Regions from separate parts of the Homo sapiens genome. Here all the other regions are linked to region 2. Evidence: fine-mapped expression QTL. A gene starts in region 2. Each other region holds a variant in brackets. All regions are shown on one strand. Distances are between the middles of the regions.

What was found.
Region 1: its variant is fine-mapped to the expression of BTBD9 in caudate (GTEx, PIP 0.98).
Region 3: its variant is fine-mapped to the expression of BTBD9 in testis (GTEx, PIP above 0.99). The same link has a PIP of 0.9 or more in T cells, aorta, caudate, cerebral cortex, iPS cells and nucleus accumbens.

The regions. Positions count from the first base shown.
Region 1 is chr6:39,544,126-39,550,048 of GRCh38, reverse strand. KIF6 (kinesin family member 6) reads left to right here. Exons shown (of 23, transcript NM_145027.6): 11 at 4,361-4,466; 12 at 5,356-5,494. Among named protein-coding and RNA genes, the nearest start is that of KIF6, 180 kb to the left of the region's middle. The variant A/T (reference allele first, on the strand shown) is at 2,605.
Region 2 is chr6:38,637,042-38,642,964 of GRCh38, reverse strand. BTBD9 (BTB domain containing 9) reads left to right here and starts at 3,036. Exons shown (of 11, transcript NM_001099272.2): 1 at 3,036-3,165. It overlaps LOC105375044 (a long non-coding RNA gene), which reads right to left and starts at 2,570. Exons shown (of 3, transcript XR_926767.4): 1 at 2,481-2,570. RefSeq lists enhancers at 2,694-2,773, 2,574-3,074 and a silencer at 3,174-3,373.
Region 3 is chr6:38,173,422-38,179,325 of GRCh38, reverse strand. BTBD9 (BTB domain containing 9) reads left to right here. Exons shown (of 11, transcript NM_001099272.2): 11 at 4,144-5,904. The coding sequence ends at 4,341. It overlaps LOC124901315 (a long non-coding RNA gene), which reads right to left and starts at 4,148. Exons shown (of 2, transcript XR_007059571.1): 1 at 3,249-4,148; 2 at 1-2,010. The variant C/G (reference allele first, on the strand shown) is at 3,102.

The DNA of each region.
Region 1 (5,923 bases), 910 kb before region 2:
TGAATGTTCTTGAGCCAAAGACAACTAGCTGGCCAAAAATTTCGGGACTGCTGATCTGCTCCCCTCCCTCCCTCTCTCCCTTCCCTCATGCCTTTCCTTCCTTTTTGTCTCTTCAGTCTTCTTATGTGTGTTACAGTGTACTTGCAGAATCCCTGCAGAGGGATTCATCATTAAGCTATCCATATATAGTATGAGTGTTTTTAATGTCAATAAGTACAACACTTTGCCGTCACTTAAATTGCTGCTTAACTATGTACATAGCTATGCCATAATTAATTTAAGTAATCTTCAAATACAGCACATTCTGATTCCTTCCCAACTTTTTTTGCCGTTACAAGTCATGGGGGTCCGTGGCCTTGCTAAGATCTAAGCAACTGCTTTTCAGTTATTTCCCACTTCTTCGTCCACCTATTTGCCTCCTCAATGAATGCTTGCAGGTGTGGGTTCTCCCTTTTAGAAATACATCACCCAATATGGTATTCAAATACTTTGAGTAACTTTGTTATAGTATGGTAAGTATTGTGCTTCAAAACTTGGATTTTACCTGTGTGCTTGCTGTGTGAGCTTGGACAAGATACGTAATATCTCTGTGCTTCAGTTTCCTCACCTATGACATGGGGATAATAATAGCACTTTTCTCATGGGTTGTTGTAAAAATTAAGGAAATGATATATGCAAATAGCACAGAAGAGTGTCCAGCATTTAGTGCATGCTCAATGTTGGCTGTCATTAATGATGAGAAGCTTGCTTTGTCTTTTTATTCATGCTATTAAACCTAAATTTTTAGGGACATATGGCTACAGAGAGAGCTTTTTTTTTTTGTACAAGGAATATAAGGAGCAGAGAGGGGAGTGCAGTGGCCTCAAGAAGGTAAAGCACATGTTAGGAAATATGGTCAGTTCTAATTATGTGGCCATATATCAAAATTTCTAATATGATGGAGTTGCTGAACCAGGACACAGGCTGTCAGAGGTATTTCATTAGCAGTCAATTTGGCTGAGATCTGTATAGTCACCAGACATCAAACCATCACCTACCATCAGCGAAGTCATGTGTTCAGACACACTAAATTATTACAATATTTCTTGTTACTGAATGGTGTGTATTTCTTTTCTCTTTCCCCTAGGATTCTTTTTTCTTCCTTCTTTTCTTCTAGTGTAAGTAGAGAATAAGGAAAGCTCTTGTTGACTTGGGCTTGTCCTAAAAAATAGACTTTATTGTACTCACTTGACCTCCTTAGCGAGACTTTTCTGCAAACAGTTTTCCACTGTTCAGCAGAGTTCTGGCAGCTGGGAGACCCCTTAGAGGGAGCAGGGACTAGGTATAAACTTGGACACTATTTTGGTAGATAGGAAAATGTGGGGAATTTGGGTTCATTTGTTCACTCTCAACTACTAGAGGAGTACAACGAAAACATCTGAATTAAGCATTTTTCTGCATTTTAATTATTAGACCAAGTCCTTGCCTGATAAGGAAATAAACCCAACAGTAAATCAAATGTATGAAGGAAAGACCAGGCATGTTTCTTTGTGTTCTCAAGTGCTGAAAGCAAAATAGCATGTCAAAAGGCTGATCTTCATTCTTAGTTATGTACTAGACTAATCAAGTCCCAGAAAGAGTAAAGCGATCAGTTCTTTTACTCAGGCAGAAGTTCTTGCCCATTTCTTTGGATCATGTCCCTGGTCCTCCTTGTATTCTACAGTGTTGCTGTGTGGGAGAGGAGCCTTGATGGAATACCAAAGCCCAGTGCACGTGAGCAATCTGTGAGTGGTCCAGCTCATCAGCAGGCTTGTATCTTACGAGGTTTCCTTCTGAGCTAGGAGTCCACTTCAGCCTTCCTTCAGAGAACGTTTCCTAGAATATGTACTTGTGATTAAACTATTCAAAAGTTGTTTTCTAAAGAAAAAGCAAGAAGAAAGAATTGATTAACCATTACTTCCAACTTAATATTGTCTGCTAGAAATTTTATGGACTCTGGAAATCACAAAGTGCTTTCACTCCAGAAAACGAGTGTATATTCTAGAACCCACAGTGATTTTTGAAATTTCAAAATTTCTGCTATGTATTCAGGGAAAATACAAGTAGCTAAACATTACTATTTTTTAAACCTCATTAAGTCAGGTTTGTAGATCAAGGTCTCATCATGGGTTACAGAGGAAAGTAGCAACTGTATGAGTATGTCACCTCAGTGTCCATCAAGAGAGGAATAGTAGTACATCCATAGTATGGAATATTATATAGCCATTAGAAATGAAATACCTTTACTGTGTATGCACTGATGGAAAAGCTCATCTGCCATAAATGCTTTAGAAATATAATGATGTAAAGCATTATTCAGACTATGATCTCATTTTTGTAAAAACAACAAACCAAAATGTATAAATGAATATATAAATATAGGTATCTGCTTCATTAAGAATAAGAATAATATATTTTAACTGTTAACAGTGGATTTCCCAAGGTATCAAATTTTTTTAAAAAAAGGTGGAGGGGAATGGTGGCAGGGGAGTGGGAGGAGTTTTCACTTTTTAATATATTCACATCTGCATTGTTTGGAATTTTGTTCATAAACATGTGTTTTCATAATAATTTACATGATTTTTT[A/T]AAAAATGTATCAGGAATAAATCCCTCTGTATATCTGATGGTTTGAAGCTCTAATCCAAAAGGAAACACACTGTCAATCAGCAAATAGTGCAAATAAGTATCTCTTCACCTAAAGAAACTCCTTAAAAGTAACGGTATAAATTGTCTCACACTTGTAAATATATAGCTGTCACATGTCACAAATTACAAGAGGTACAAATGAAATCCAAGGCTGTTCTATGATAGAAATCATTACATTTTATCTGGGTGGGCTGATAGTAACAGCAGAAGAGAAATGTGTAGATACAGTTTTAAAAGATGCTGAAAGTATGCAAATATTTTCATAATAGTACTAGAAAGATATGCTGCTGCTGTATTATGATACATAACATCATAGATACTGATTGTCATCCTTAAACCTTCCTTATTAAGAGTTCCATCTCAACCTAGAGGGGAACCATGTCCATGGCAGTGAATCCAGTAACTAGTGAACATATTTGTGTTGAGAACCTAATGTTAGGGGGACGGGAAGAACAAAGATAAATAAGAGCCAAGAATTTCCCTCTGATACAAAGTACTAGAATGCTACATTGGCACGTGGTGCTATGAATAAACTAGGACTTTTTTTTTTTTTTTTTTTGAGACAGGGTCTTGTTCTTTTGCCCAGGCTGGAGTGCAGTGGCACAATCTCAACCCACTGCAACCTCTGCCTCCTGGGTTCAAGTGATTCTCCTGCCTCAGCCTCCTAAGTAGATAGGATTACAGGCACATGCCAATTTGCCTGGCTAGTTTTTGTGTTTTTAGAAGAGAAGGGGTTTCACTCTGTTGGTCAGGCTGGTCTTGAACTCCTGACCTCAAGTGATCCGCCCACCTGGGCCTCCCAAAGTGCTGGGATTACAAGTGTGAGCCACTGTACCCGGCCAAACTAGGACTTTAGAATAGAGTGGTTGGATGGTCCCTCCAAAGGGAGGTGTTTTGTTTTCTATTTCATTTTGTTTTAGGATAGGAAAAACAACATGATTGTAAGCAAAGAGGAAGGAGTCAGTATAGAGAGGAGATAAAGAGATGATTAAGGGAAAAGAGGTAATTAACTAGATAAGCCCTGGAAGAAGCAGAGAGAGAGCCCAGGGGAGAAACTGGCCTTCAGAAAGAGGAAGAATATCCACAATCTATAAAAGCAGGAAGAGGGCCTGAGCAGTGAGGCAGAGACACTCTGAGGCAAAGGAGGAGGAAACAAAGGAGTCTGCATGGCTTTCACCAATAAAGAAGTGACTTTATTGACAGAGAGTGAAAGAGTAGTGGCAGGCTTGGGGGCTGTAGAAAGATTTGGAATAGGCACTGTGAAGAATAGAAGATCACCTGGAATGATTAAAAAAATAGTGGGGTATCACTGAGGTGCCAGCTGAAGCGGAGTCACATGCATTTTTAGTGAAATTAATTTAAAATACATTCTCATTACTTTTTCTAGCAATGCAGCAGCCAGGCACAGGGGCATAGAAATTCAGAGTGGCTAGAATGGATGGACCATAGAAATCAAATGATTTCTATATTGAAAGCTTCATAAGAAAATTCACTGGAAATTAGTCAAATAATGGCTTCACTATAAATTTCACTTTGTCAATGTTTCTTTTCCCTTAATTTTTATACTCAAATCTGTACTTCTGTAAAGAGGTGGGAACAATATTCTGTACTTCAAATGTTAACCAACTAGATAATGCCATTAGAATTTTTAAAGCTTCTAGCTCACAGTTGCTTCTCATACATTATGTATTTTTAGGCTGGAAAAACTAATAACATCCTTTTTGGAAGACCAGGATTCAGACAGTAGATTAGAGGTTGGCGCGGATATGCGTAAAGTTCATCACTGTTTTCATCATTTAAAGGTAAACTTAAATGTTTCCCCAATAGAAGCCATTTTCAGCCATGTTCAAGCTGCAAAAAAACTTTTCTAGTTGACCAGTTCTTGGAAGGTTAGGATCCAGCATTGCATGTCCAGAAAATGGTACGATCTTTGAATCAATAGTATGATTATCACTGAGTTTCTTCAGAGATTGTATCTTACTTGCCAATAAATAAACTCAGGCCATGGACTTCTAATTCTTTTGTCAGGAATCTCTACCTTCTACACAGAATAGTTCCATATTTTTTAAAAAACTATTTTCAAGCTATATCAAGAGAATTGCATTCTGTATTTTTTCAGCAGTTTGATATACCCATATGATATTTCAGTTTTTCTCTGCCTTAGGTTTTAATTTTCATGACAAGGGGCTGGGAATATAATCACTTTTACTTTTAGCTCACTTGTATTTTTGCATACTTCTTTAAGATAATAAACATTTGTTGTGAGTTACTAAGGGCCAGGTATAGATAAGACAAAGTTTAATAAGCAAGTCATGGAGATGACAGATGTTGTAAAGAATAATCACAATACATGATAAGTACTAGAATAAAAGTGTAAATTAAGTGGAATGATGTATAGAGAAAGGGAAAGGAGTCCAAGAAGAGATAATGTTGAGTAGGCATTTCCCAATTTAGGGAAGGAGAGATAAGATGGGGAGAGAGGGTTGAGGAAGGAGGAGGGGAAAGAAGGCAGGTAGAAGGGAGAAAACATGCCAAGCCAAAAAAGCAACTGCATCGCAAAGACATCGCACCTGCATCAGACAGGTCACACATGCCTGATGTGTGCAGGGAATTGTTAAAGGAAAAAGAGTCAAAGAAACAAAGAAATTTGGACTAGAGATATGGGTACTAAGCTCTTATTTTATCTTACAGAAACTATTGAATGACAAGAAGATCCTTGAAAACAATACAGTCTCCTCTGAAAGCAAAGACCAAGATTGTCAAGAACCATTAAAAGAAGAAGAATATAGAAAGCTACGAGATATTCTGAAACAGAGAGATAACGAAATCAGTATCCTTTCTGAAGTGATGAAGAAACTTCCTCTATCCTGGTTTGAAAGGGGTAAACAGCAGTCTTTCCTGAGCCACATGGCTGAGCTCCCCACCCAGCTTCCATTTCACATTGCTTCTTTCCATTGAGAAGTCAAAGGTCCCTTCAGCAAAGTATTGCAACCAGTGAAAAAGAGTTTCTATAAAAGAAAAAAATGTGTTTGTTTTTATCCTGACATAGTTACTCTTGCAGGGAACATTTTAGTTTATTTCAAAGTATGAGCCTTTTTACACCATCTTTTAACATTAATTTTTTAAAATATATTTTTTGGCTCCTCTGTTGTGTTCTCTTTGTGTTAGCCCTGAGCCAGTAAGTTAGCTGGTTATCTTTAGCAAGCTGACCAGACAACAGGCTGACCACAGACTCACCATGGCCCAGAATCTGTGGCTG
Region 2 (5,923 bases):
AATGAGAAAATCATAGACTCAGCTTGATCTCATCCTTTGCCAGATGCGAAAACCAAAGCCTGGAGTAGTTGAGGGATTTGTTCAAAGTTATCTAGCTAGTTAATGGCCAGAATCAAGACTAGAATCTCAAAACTCCCATCAAACTAGTCTAGAGGCCAATCCACTATATTGATCTGCCTTTCAGATCTCAGTGATTTGGTATCTATCTCCACTATCCCACTGAAGTTTGCTATTGTTGGTTACCAATCACTTTTCTGTTGCTAAATCCAGTGAATGCTTTCCAGTTCTTGATATACTTGGCCTTTTTGTGGTCTCTGACTCTGTTGACCCCTCTCCATCTTGCTTGCTTGGCTTCAGAGGCATTAGGCTCACCTAGTTCTCCTTTTCTCTCTCTGGCCATTCTTCCTCAGACTTCTTTTTGGGCTTCTGATCATCTGCACCTCCTTTTAAAGTTAGTGCTCTCCAGGGGCCCTATCCTTGCCTCTCCTTATTATGTCTTCTGTATTTTCTCCCTGATTGATCTCATCCATGCCTCGGGCTTAAATTACCAATTATTAATTTATTTCTTCCAAATCTATTTTAACTCAACCTCTTTCCTCATTCATAGACCTGTACAGTTTGAGTGTTTATTGGACATTTTTCTCTAGATGTGGAGGTTCCATCAGGTCACAGTCATATTGCTATAGTCTCTGAGGGGACCTACTGAATTGTACCCTTCTTTTCCAGGTAATGGAGAAAGCTGCAGGAAACCAACTATTATCTTTATTACTGACTGTATCAGTTTCCTATTGCTGTTGTAACAAGTTAGCACAAACTTGGTACCTTAAAACATACAAGTTTCTTATCTCGCAGTTCTAGAAGTCAGAAGTCCTAAAATCAAGGTGTTGGCAGGGCTGTGTTCTTAGGGTGCTAGAGAAGAATCCATTTCCTTGCCTTCTCCCGCATCTACAATTTGCTTGCGTTTCTTGGGTCCATCTTCAAAGCCAACAGTATAGCATCTTCAAATCTCTGTCTGACCTCTGCTTCCATCATCACATCTCCTTCTCTGACTCTGACCCTCCTGCCTCCAGCCCAGTCAGACAATCCAGGATAATCTCCCTAGATACATCATTTAATCATATCTGCAAAGTCCCTTTTGCCACATAATATAACATATTCATGGGTTCTGAGTATTAGGGTGTGGTCATCCTTTTTTTTTTGGTTGGGGGGGATCATTATTCTGTGTAACACAGCTGACAAAGCTGGTATTAAATATTATCTGTGGACAGACAGCTTCCTAATGCCAAACTCTGGAATTAAATACATATACTCTCTTTGTAGCCCTGGACTAGGCACCCTTGTCCCTACCCACAGGCCCTGCTCCAGAAGAAACGGAAAAGAACACCAGGACAGTTCCCTGAAGATAGTTATCTTTTAAGAGAAAAAGAATGGGATAGATGCCACATGTCCAGTTTCTCCCATTTAAGTTCACCAATCAGGAAGTCACTCCTCTAGGCAAGAGTGAGTTGCAGACAGGTATAAGAGAAACCAGGAGAGTATTACACTAATGGATATCATTCCATATGGAAGAAAGACATTGTGAATGGAGAGTAAATGTTTCCCTAACAAACATATCCATATTTGAACTCATCATCATACTCCACATATCTGGTCATCCTCCTAAGAAATGTCACCATCACTATCTATAATAGTAACTTAGACACTTGTGGATAATCAAGACTCATGTAGCTTGCCATCTTGCTAAATGTTACCACTGTCTACCTCAGCACTCATGCTAGAAACCTGGCCTACTCATTTATCCGCACTCAGTGCTGTGAATTCTACCACCTTAATGGCGCTAACATCTATCCCCTCCTCTATTCCCACTGCCAATGCCTTGTTTAATGTTCTTATCACTTGTCTGGAGTACTGCAATGGCCTAAAAATGGGTCTCCCTGCCCCAAGCCTTGCTTTTCCTGACCATTTTCACTTTCTACTTTTACTCATGAAGCTTCCTTTGCCCGGAATTAAGTCCTTCCCAATTTGTCTCCTCCAACAACTGCAAGGGCGGTCCCCTAGCTTGCTCCAGCGTCGGGGATAACTGACTTTCCTACACCAGCTACAGTCAGACCTGCACCCGGATTTCTAGGACTCTTATCTATGTAGATAGATAAATACATTTTTTTGAGACAGTGTCTTGCTCTCACTGCAGAGGCTGGAGTGCAGCGGCGCGATCACGGTTCACTGCAATCTTGAACTCCCCAGGTTCAAGCGATCCTCCCACCTCAGCCCCCCGAGCATTTGTGACTACAGGCGCGCGCCAACATGCCCATTTAGTTTTTGTCTTTTTTGTAGAGACGGGGTTTCACTATGTTACCCAGGCTGGTGTCGAACTCCTGAGCTCAAGCGATCCGCCCACCTCGGCCTCCCAAAGTGCTGGGATTACAGGCTTGAGCCACCAAGTCAAATGGGCTTTATACTTACAAAGTACCTTTGCATACCTTATTTCATTTTCACCTCACAATTCTCCAGCGTAGGCTGGACCGGTATTATTATGCCCATTTACTGAGAGAGGAAACTGAGAGTCAAGGCTGGGCCAGTCACACCCTGCTGCGAAATTAACGAGCATCACTTAGCAGCCTCGACATTAACCGCGCTCGCGCTCTCATCCCTTTCTGGTCCTACTCCTTGGAGAACCTTCCTGCACCTCCAAGAACTTGCCGATCGGGTCTGCGGCGGTCTGGACGAGGTCACTCCACAGGCGCCCAGGACCTTCTCATCCGTAGTGACGTGCGCCGGTGACGCCATACAGTGACGTGTGGTGACTCGACTTACCCGGAGCCAGGTGCCGGCAGGGCAGCCACACCCTGGGGCCCCCTGTTCTGGAGGGGCAGAGGGTCGGGCCGATGCGAAAAAGCCGCGGAAGCTGCCTTAGGCGACTTTCTGGGCCTGCATCGCCGGACCCAGCAGCCCGCTGTCGATCGGTTGCTAAGTGACGCCAGCGCGCAGTGGCGCGTGCGCGGCCACGGCGGAGTGCGTGAAAGCGGACGCGCGCCGCAGCAGCCGGGGCGGCGGCGAGGACGGCGGCCACGGAAGCGGCCAAGGGGGCGGTGGCGCAGAGAGGGGTGCGGAGCGGGCGGAAGAGGCGTCTGTGTCGCAGCTTGGTCTCAGAGGAGCATCGCTGGGGTGAGTAGCCGGGTCCTTGCAGGGGAGGTGGGGCCTGGCCGCACCTGCGGCGCGGGGACGCGCGCCCCCGCCGTATCCGCGCGCACCGCCCCCCGCCCCTCCGCCGCTTTTTCCGGGGGCGGGGGAGGAGCTGGGACGGGGCCTGACGAGGGTCATTTCTTGGGCCCGGGTGCTCTGGGAGAGCGGTAGCCGTCCCGTTCGCAGTCCACGAAGGTGTAGTGGGAAGTAGACGTTTCGGGGATTCGGGGTGGCTCTACCAGCCTCCCAAAGAGAGGAGTTCGAATCAGGGGCAGCCCAGGTTCCCTAGCAGTCTCGTATCCTGTCTGAGACGACGTTGCCTGGGACTGAGGAGGCGAAACCCGGGACCCCGGGGTGGGGGTTTGGAAAGTTTGGGACTGCTGGGGCCCTCATCTCCCCTGCCCTGGCCAGCCTCTGAGTAGGAGCTGGTTGTTATGGAGAGAGTTGTGAATCAGTGCCTGCGTGCGGCATCAGACACACCCACGACCTTGGGAGGGCGACCTGTCAGTATAGATCCGGGGCAGCCAACCTGTTGCCTAGAGTTTCTAACTTCACATGTATGTGCATGTGTTTCCTTGGCGTTTTAGTACATTGTTGTTACAGATTTTGAGACCAAGGTGCTGATAGGCATCCTCATTTCTTACTTCCTCATAGACTTAGTTATCTTGCTATATTTCCCAGAACCGTGTTGTGCTTTTGTCATTAGTAGATCCAAGGAAGTATGGAAGCATGTTTTGTTTGTTTTTCCTAAAGGCAGTACAGGCTGCTATTTTCTGGGCAGAAAATACGGATTCTGTTCACTGTGTGGGCGGAAAGTGTTGATGATGGGAGAACCCAGCATGTAAAGGTGTAGCTCATCCTCAGCCCTGTGCTGTCTTCTCAGTGCTCTGGACTCTATCATGGGTAGATGTATAGGGGTTGTGGTTACCATACTTGGGAGCGAGGAATATTGGAGACAGGGAAGAAGCCAGTCTTTTCTTTCTGTTGATTAAGGCAATTTGTAGAACCAGTGAAAAGATAGGCTGTACTGAAATCTAATGTTTTGTGTAAGAGGATAGAGGAAAATAAGTTCAAGGTTCTCATTTAGGTCTAAAATTCTATGATTCTGTTTCATAACTGAGAATCTGTAAAGTATGTTACCTCTTGGAACCAGTAATAACCTTGCTTTGTAACACTTATTAGATTACTCGGAATTCAAAGTGTCTTCCTCCCTCCACTGTAATAGCTTTTAGGACAGGAGTCATCTGTGTTTTCCTCCTTGCCCTATGTCTAACACATAGGAAAAATGTGCTTGCCACAGAGTAGGCATGCAATGGATATTTGTTATATAGCACACTATGCTCAAGTGGTGTATCTATGTATAGAAAGCATTGAGTTCAGTCCATCAAGTACTTAATACATGTGCCTCCCTCTGCCCAGTATCATGATAGGTGTGGGAGGAGGATTATGGAGTGAAAAATGACATAGAAGACCTGTCTTTTTTTTCCCTTTGAGAGCAGTAGTCTAGCTAGGAGATGTATAAAATAATTATAAAACCAAGTTAAGTAGCAGGTAACCAGTGCTGTTTGAGGACTATAAATGTGGTAGAAAATCAGAAAAGATAGGATGTGTAGGCTGAGTTAGGGAACTCTTTGAAAGAGGCAAGATTTGACTTGGTCTCTGAAAGAAGTTAAAATTTGTTAGGAAATAAACCAGGAGCTGAGAAAATAATAATGTGAATTTGGTTGTTGGAGGATATACCAAGACGACTTTTATGTCTGGTAACTGGAGCGGAACGTCTCTTATAGGGGAATACTGGAGAGAGATGGCTTAGCAGGTTGGGAAGGCAAAGTGTTAAGGATTAAGGCGGGCTTATCAGCATCCCACTGTTAACAAGATACAGCCTTCTTGTAAGGTGGGATAGAGGTTGTATTAATCAGAGTACAGTCTTTGACAAGAATAAGTGTTATCCTTACTTGAAAGTAAAGGATATTACGCTTGAACCAATATCAGGTTGTTAATATACTTTTGATTTCAATTACTAATTGGAATCGATGCCTCACTAATGTGCATGTATTTTAGGTAGTCAGTGGTGCATGTCTCATTATCTAAAATCTACCTGATGTACTTGGGCCATTGTATTGGAAATTTACTGAAATGATGTACCAATAGTCATCCAGTCACACTCAGTGACATAGTTTTGCTTGGGATTATCTCTCTGAGGTTTGTCTTTACTGCTGATCCTGTAAAATATACAAATGTTAGTTGGGAAAGGAGTCTTTCTGATGAACGATGCTTAAAAATACTGACCAAAGAGATTTCAGAATAATTAAAGACCCTGCTGCTGAATATTGAACCCTTGGTCTTTATTTATAACATCTTCTGTTATGTGAAAATTCTTTTGAGTGGTATGTAAACCTGAAGTTGAATTGCTAACCAAGATGTGTAAAGTTACAACTGCAAATGTTGCATTATTTAACAACTCAGCAGATACTTACTGGGTGCTGGCTATGGCGAGACACTTCGTTGGGTGCTGGGAAGACAAAGAAGTTAAGACACAGTATATGCTCAGCATACTAAGTGTTCATCAGAAGAGATAAACCACTAACCATTATGTGCTGTGACAAATTAATCACTTTTGGAATGAATAATGTGCTGGGGGAGTAGAGTGCTTTGGCTGGAGAAAAAACTGATAGGGAACATGTTGAGAAGAAGGGGATGGAGCTTAGCTCTGAGGGTTAAATAAAATTTCGCCACATGT
Region 3 (5,904 bases), 460 kb after region 2:
AATGACTCCTGCCTATTGATTCCAAATTGCTAAATCAGGGGATTCCAAGGTTTAAAGGTTTGTTGTCATCTAGATTTTTAAAATACTTGTTATTTGAATTTGTCACCACAAATGTATATTCCTTTTTAAATAACTTTTTTAGTTTAAGAAATATTAGTTTTTAAAGAGTCTCGTAGGCTGGGCATGGTAGCTCACGCCTGTAATCCCAGCTCTTTGGGAGGCTGAGGTGGGCGGATCATGAGGTCAAGAGATCAAGACCATCCTGGCCAACATGGTGAAACCCCATCTCTACTAAAAACACAAAAATTAGCTGGGTGTGGTGGCACGTGCCTGTAGTCTCAGCTACTTAGGAGGCTGAGGCAGGAGAATCGCTTGAACCTGGGAGGCGGAGGTTGCAGTGAGCTGAGATAGCCCCCCTGCACCCCAGCCTGGCGACAGAGCGAGACTCTGTCTCATAAATAAATAAATAAATAAATAAATAGCCTCCTTTGTCCAAGAGTATCAGGATCCCTGCCCAGCTTAAGGCCAGGCCCTCGCCCTGTCCCATTGGGTGTGGCCTCTGCCCCACCCCTCCCCCCCACACCCTGCTGCTCCCAGGCCCTCCTTGCTCTGTTGCCACCCTTTGGCTTGAGAACCTGTGTAGTTCTTCCTGTTTTTCTTCCACACCAAGTCCCCCCCTCCTCCATCCTCTCTAGCTTGGCTGCCTCTTCCTTCCAGACTCACCTCAGATGTCTCCTCCCCCAGGAAGCCTTCCCTGACCGCCTGCCTGGCTGGGTCCCACTCCTCTATGCCCTGGGGCTCCTTCTCCCTGGCTTATGTGTCTGCTGGCCTCACTGGACCGTACACCCTCTGAGGGCAGCTGGGACCTCGCCCAGTCAGGCACGTAGGAGGTGCTTCATGCTTGTGGTACGTGTGTACCTCCTGACCCTGCTCACGTGTGCAGCGTCATCCTCTGGCCGTGTCTGCTGCATATGTGATGTTCATCCTGTCTCTGTTGGTGTGCAGAGGCTGTTCCCTCCCCACCTGTCACCTGTAGCTTGCCCACCCCCACCCATGGCAGGTTCTGTGTCTTCACCCGCCTATCCATTTGTAAAAACACTCTTTTCCACTTAGAATCTTCGCCACACAGTTTGTGATTTAATACAGGTAACTCACTCCTGCCTGTGTATTGCCTTTGAATCTGGCAGCACCTGCGTGGCTTGGTGGAGATGCTCAGGGAGACTGCACTTCATTTAGTTGGGATTCTGGGGCCACAGACTGGGACGCAGCTCTGAGATGGCCCCAGTTCCTTGCAGAGCCACAGGGAGCTCAGTCAGGCAGTTACGGCCTAGGGCTTCCAGGGGCTTCCAGGGTCCCCTAACTTGATGGCAGGGCCTGCCGTGAGCTCTGTGGCATCAGGGAGAGAGATAGTTAGGAGTTCTTTAGAAGAAATATCCATAGGAAAACACAGAAGCAGTTGAGATTGGCTGTCAGTCTTGTTAGGTGTGTTGGGAGTAACAGCCATTTGCATTATTATCTGAAAACAAATTGGCTAATGGGCTAAACACAGTTGTGCCCTTAACACTGCCCAAGTTAGACAAGAGATAAATGCAGCTGGAAATGAGAAGAAACAATGAGAACCAGGGCACCGACAGGTCGGGTCGTGGAATGTCTATCACGTGCTCACCACAGACAGCATCTCTTCCCAGGCTCTTACCAGCGCAGTGCGGAGCAGAGACCCGCCCTGATCCCTCCTCCAGTGAGAGGCCGGCTGTGAAGAGCAAGCCGCAGCACCAGGCCACTCTGAGGTCTTTTTTAACTTTATCTCTCAATCCAGGGTTTTTATCGATTTGTTTATTCTTGTGCAAGAACCCGAGCAGGTAGAAGGACGACTAAGCCTTGGTCCTTGAGTCAGATCGGAGCTGACAGATCAGTAGAAGGAGGCAGGCAGCGGGGTGGGCCACGGAGCGGGAGGCACCCTGAAGGCTTGCGGGGCCGGTGGGGGAAGAGCTGGCCTGGAAATTAACAGGACTGTAGAGAACGTTGCAAGAGCAAAAGGAGAGAAAAACCATTCAATACCAGAGGAGTGAGCTTGAGAAAAGGTAATAAGGAGTAGGACAAACGTAAGTCAATTCCAGGATTAGTGTCAGCCTGAGGCTCTGGGGAGCGGCCTCCGGAGATATTGACCGAGCAGGGAGAGCAGGGATTACACAAATAACCAATTAAAGAACATGGTGGGGCCGGATAAAGAGCTCCTGTGTCAGCAGGGGGAAGGAGCAGTAAAACACAGCCTGTCCTGAAAAGTCCTGCGTGTGGGCGTGGGAACAGAATATGGCTCTGGGTCATACTGCAAAAGAGAAGGCGTATTTGCTGGGTTATGAGAAGCTTTAGTGGGGGGGGTGTTGAGGACCGGGACTGCACTCTCAAGGCGTGTCCTGGCCCCGCAGAGCCTGACCTCACCTATCCCTGGGTGTGGAAGAAGGAACACTTATAAGGCAAGTGACCCATGAGTGGCCGACATGCCCAGGGCGGTGTTGTTACTGAAGAGCTGCAAGATTGTGAAGCTGATGAAGGAGTGGATTAATGGTTGTCACCTAGAGGATGATTCTCAGATTCCCCTGGCCTAGCCCAGGGCAGAGCTGATGGCCCAAATAGTGTTCAGATCTCCACATAAGGCCTTCCCCTAGGACCTAGCCCCTCCAGTTGTTGACTGGTAAGCCCTGCAGATGGACCCACAGAAGGAGATTTTATAAAAAAGGAAGGAAGGAAAGAAAGGAAAAGGAGGGAGACATAGGCTAAGTGGGGACAGCTTCAGCCGTGAGGCAGTGAGGGGTCTGCAGGAGGCGAGGACCGTGCCTGAGCCCCTGCCCTATAAGGAGAGAAATCAGCTCCCTCTAAGAGAAAATGGCAGCTCCCAAAACAGAGTGGACACACCAGGAAGACACGGTCTCAGTCTTCATATGAGAAAATGTGAAATTTAAAACAGTGGTCAATAAATGAATTGAAGTGGGAATATGGAAAAAACAGTGATGCAGGGAGGTAAGCGTGGAATTTATATTTTCAATATAATTCTGCAGTTGATACTACATTTGTCTCTGTGAACTTGATTCTACGGTAGAAGG[C/G]CGTGTGTATGTATGTGCACACATGCTCGTGCAGTGGCAACGACAGCCCCCACCCCGCCCTTCTCTCCTGCACCCCACAGCTCACACATGCATGTCAGGACCCCCCGAAGCACGTTGTCTACTCTCCAGGTCAGGGCCATGGCTTACCCTTGCTTGCGGGGCGCTGAGCTCGGTGCTGTGCCCTGTCTGCACAGTGCTGGCACGGTGTTGGCACAGAGTTCATGGTGCTTCCAGGCTGACCTGCTGTCAGGTATGCAAACTCTTCTTAGCTCCTAGAGGGTGACTGTCGGCCAGGTGGCTGGCTTCTACACATTGGGGGCGTTTGTTCCAGGCTGGCTGGAGCCACATGAGGTTGAAGTCCACTCCCCAGCACGGCTGCTTAGCAGGGTCTGTGCTCAACCATTGCAGGGCCAGGAGAACTATGCATCAGGAACCAGCTCAGGACAGGACACCATGCCATTGCAGGGCACGCTCACACACATTCACATGCACTCAGACTGGGACCCTGCAGACACACCAATGAACCTCAAGTGCACAGCTTTGGGACGCGGGAGAAAACCAGAATACCCAGAGACAACCCACGCAGATGCCACACAGATGGTGGACGTTATCTGTGGACCTGCTTTCCACAACCTCACAGAATCGAACCACCACCACCACCACCACCAGTCAACTCCTGTTGACTTTTAACCCAACTGCCAAATACAAAAATTAATTAAAAAAGAAAAAAGAGCCCATTAGACAAAGGTTGGCAAAAACGGAGTAATCCAGTGTGAAGATTTTGTGGGAATCCGTGTCATGGTGTCTCTAACTTTTGGGCCACTGGCTCATTTCCTTTCCTCTTGACTGATCAAAATGTGTTTACAGCATGCTAGTTGCCATCAGGTGTCTGCGCCGGGGCAGGCGTGGGCAGTGGGAAGGACCTCCTCTAACTCCCTCGTGGTGGCCCCCAAAGCTGGGCAGGGCAGTATCCCAACTTGCGGCAACTCCAGGGCCGCATGCTGACCCTTCACTCATGGGGTCTTTTCCTTTTCTCTCCCAGGTGTTCCACTGTGTCCACTTTGAGTGTCCAGAGCAGCAGAGCAGCCAGAAGGAGGAAAATAGTGAGGAATCGGGGACAGGGGACACCAGCCTGGCCGGTCAGCAGCTCGACTCCCATGCGCTGCGGGCGCCTAGTGGCAGCTCACTACCCTCCAGCCCAGGCTCCAACTCACGCTCCCCCAACCGGCAGCACCAATAAAGGAGGCAGCGGGCCTGGTGTGACTTGGTGGGCTCGGGCAACGGCAGGAAACGGTCTCCTCCCTGAGCAGGGGTCTCTGTTGACTGCCCCCACCTCTGCCCCTTTCCAGGGAGGAGCCGACCTAGCTGCAAAAGCAGACACCGAACAGGTTTTCTCCCAAGGACAGAAAGGGGCTGCTTTGTTCTTCTCAATTTATCCAAATCAGGCAGGTCTCAAGGGGGAGAAAATGGGTCTTCAATCTTCATCAAGTCCACCATTAACACCCTACCTCTCTAATCTAGCCCAGGCGCAGGGAACAGGAGGAAGTCATAGACAGGCCTGTGTTGGAATACAAAAATGGCACGCAAACACTCAGGCGGAGGAGAAAGCCATTGGGCCTTTGCTACCTGGAGGCACCCTTTAGGAATGGGCCTCCATAGAGTGTTCATTCTGCTGGAATACATTGCCCTGGCAACTAAATGATTTTTTATTTGTTTTAGTTATTCTCCACTCAGTGAATCATAGGTGTTCCGGATCTATTTGAAATGCTCAAACAGCAAATCACTAGTTTTAATCCCTTTTGATGCTATAATTTTCCTTCCTTGGTTTTGAACGGTTCAGCTTGCGGGGACAGAGACCCATCGTGCATGTCTCCTAAATGAGACACGGATGCAGCTCATCCTGGCACTTGGGCCACAGAGGAAGTGCCACAAATGCACACAAGCAAATCAACCTGTGGACACTGGAGTTAATAGTCACTCGTGTGGCTGAGTTACTCACCTGTCATTCCTGACATGGATCCAGCCTTTAAGCTTGGGAGGCTGACAAGGAAATAGTTACTATGCCCGCTGCTAATTCACTGTTCCGAAGTCCATGTAGATAAACATATACCGAGTTCTGGCGTGGCCAAACCTGCCGGGGACTGCCGTGGCTTAGCTGCCCCTCCAGTTGTGTTTATCGAAGCATTGGAGAGGCAGCCACCTGCCCATCAGCGTCAGGAACGCAGAACTGGGACTCCGTGCTTCCCCCACACCACAGTACTCAACTGGGGACTGAAAAATAGCAGTTCCAAGAAGCTTTTCTCCTAATCCTCATCAAAAGGACCTCATTTGACGATGGTGGCTTGATGTGGCTCCGTCTCCTACTTAGTGATTTCCATTCCAGTGCTGCCTGCCCTGGGTAACTGCGCACAACATTGCCTGCCCCTCCGCTGTCCCCAGAGCTCCGGCCTCTGTCGCCATCAGCATCAGCCTGGGAGTCTCCCCAGGACGGCATGGCACGTGAGCAGCACTGCAGTCCTTGGGTCTTCGGCGCCAACCTGCAACCCTGATCAAAGGAGGGTGAGGGCGTGGGAGTTTCCTTTCAGGTGTGTCAAAGACATATCAGCTGCGCTCTAGAAAGAGCCAACGGGTCAGCCGCTTCCTCCTAGTTTAACTTGATTTTGAGTGATTTGTCCATATGGAAATAGTAGGGTAGCATCAAACTGCGTGATTAAATTGGAAGACTGTCTTTCCGTGTGAACACAGGATGGCAGACATCAGAGGGCTACCGGGGCAGGGTGGACACGTTCCTGAGGAGAAGCCA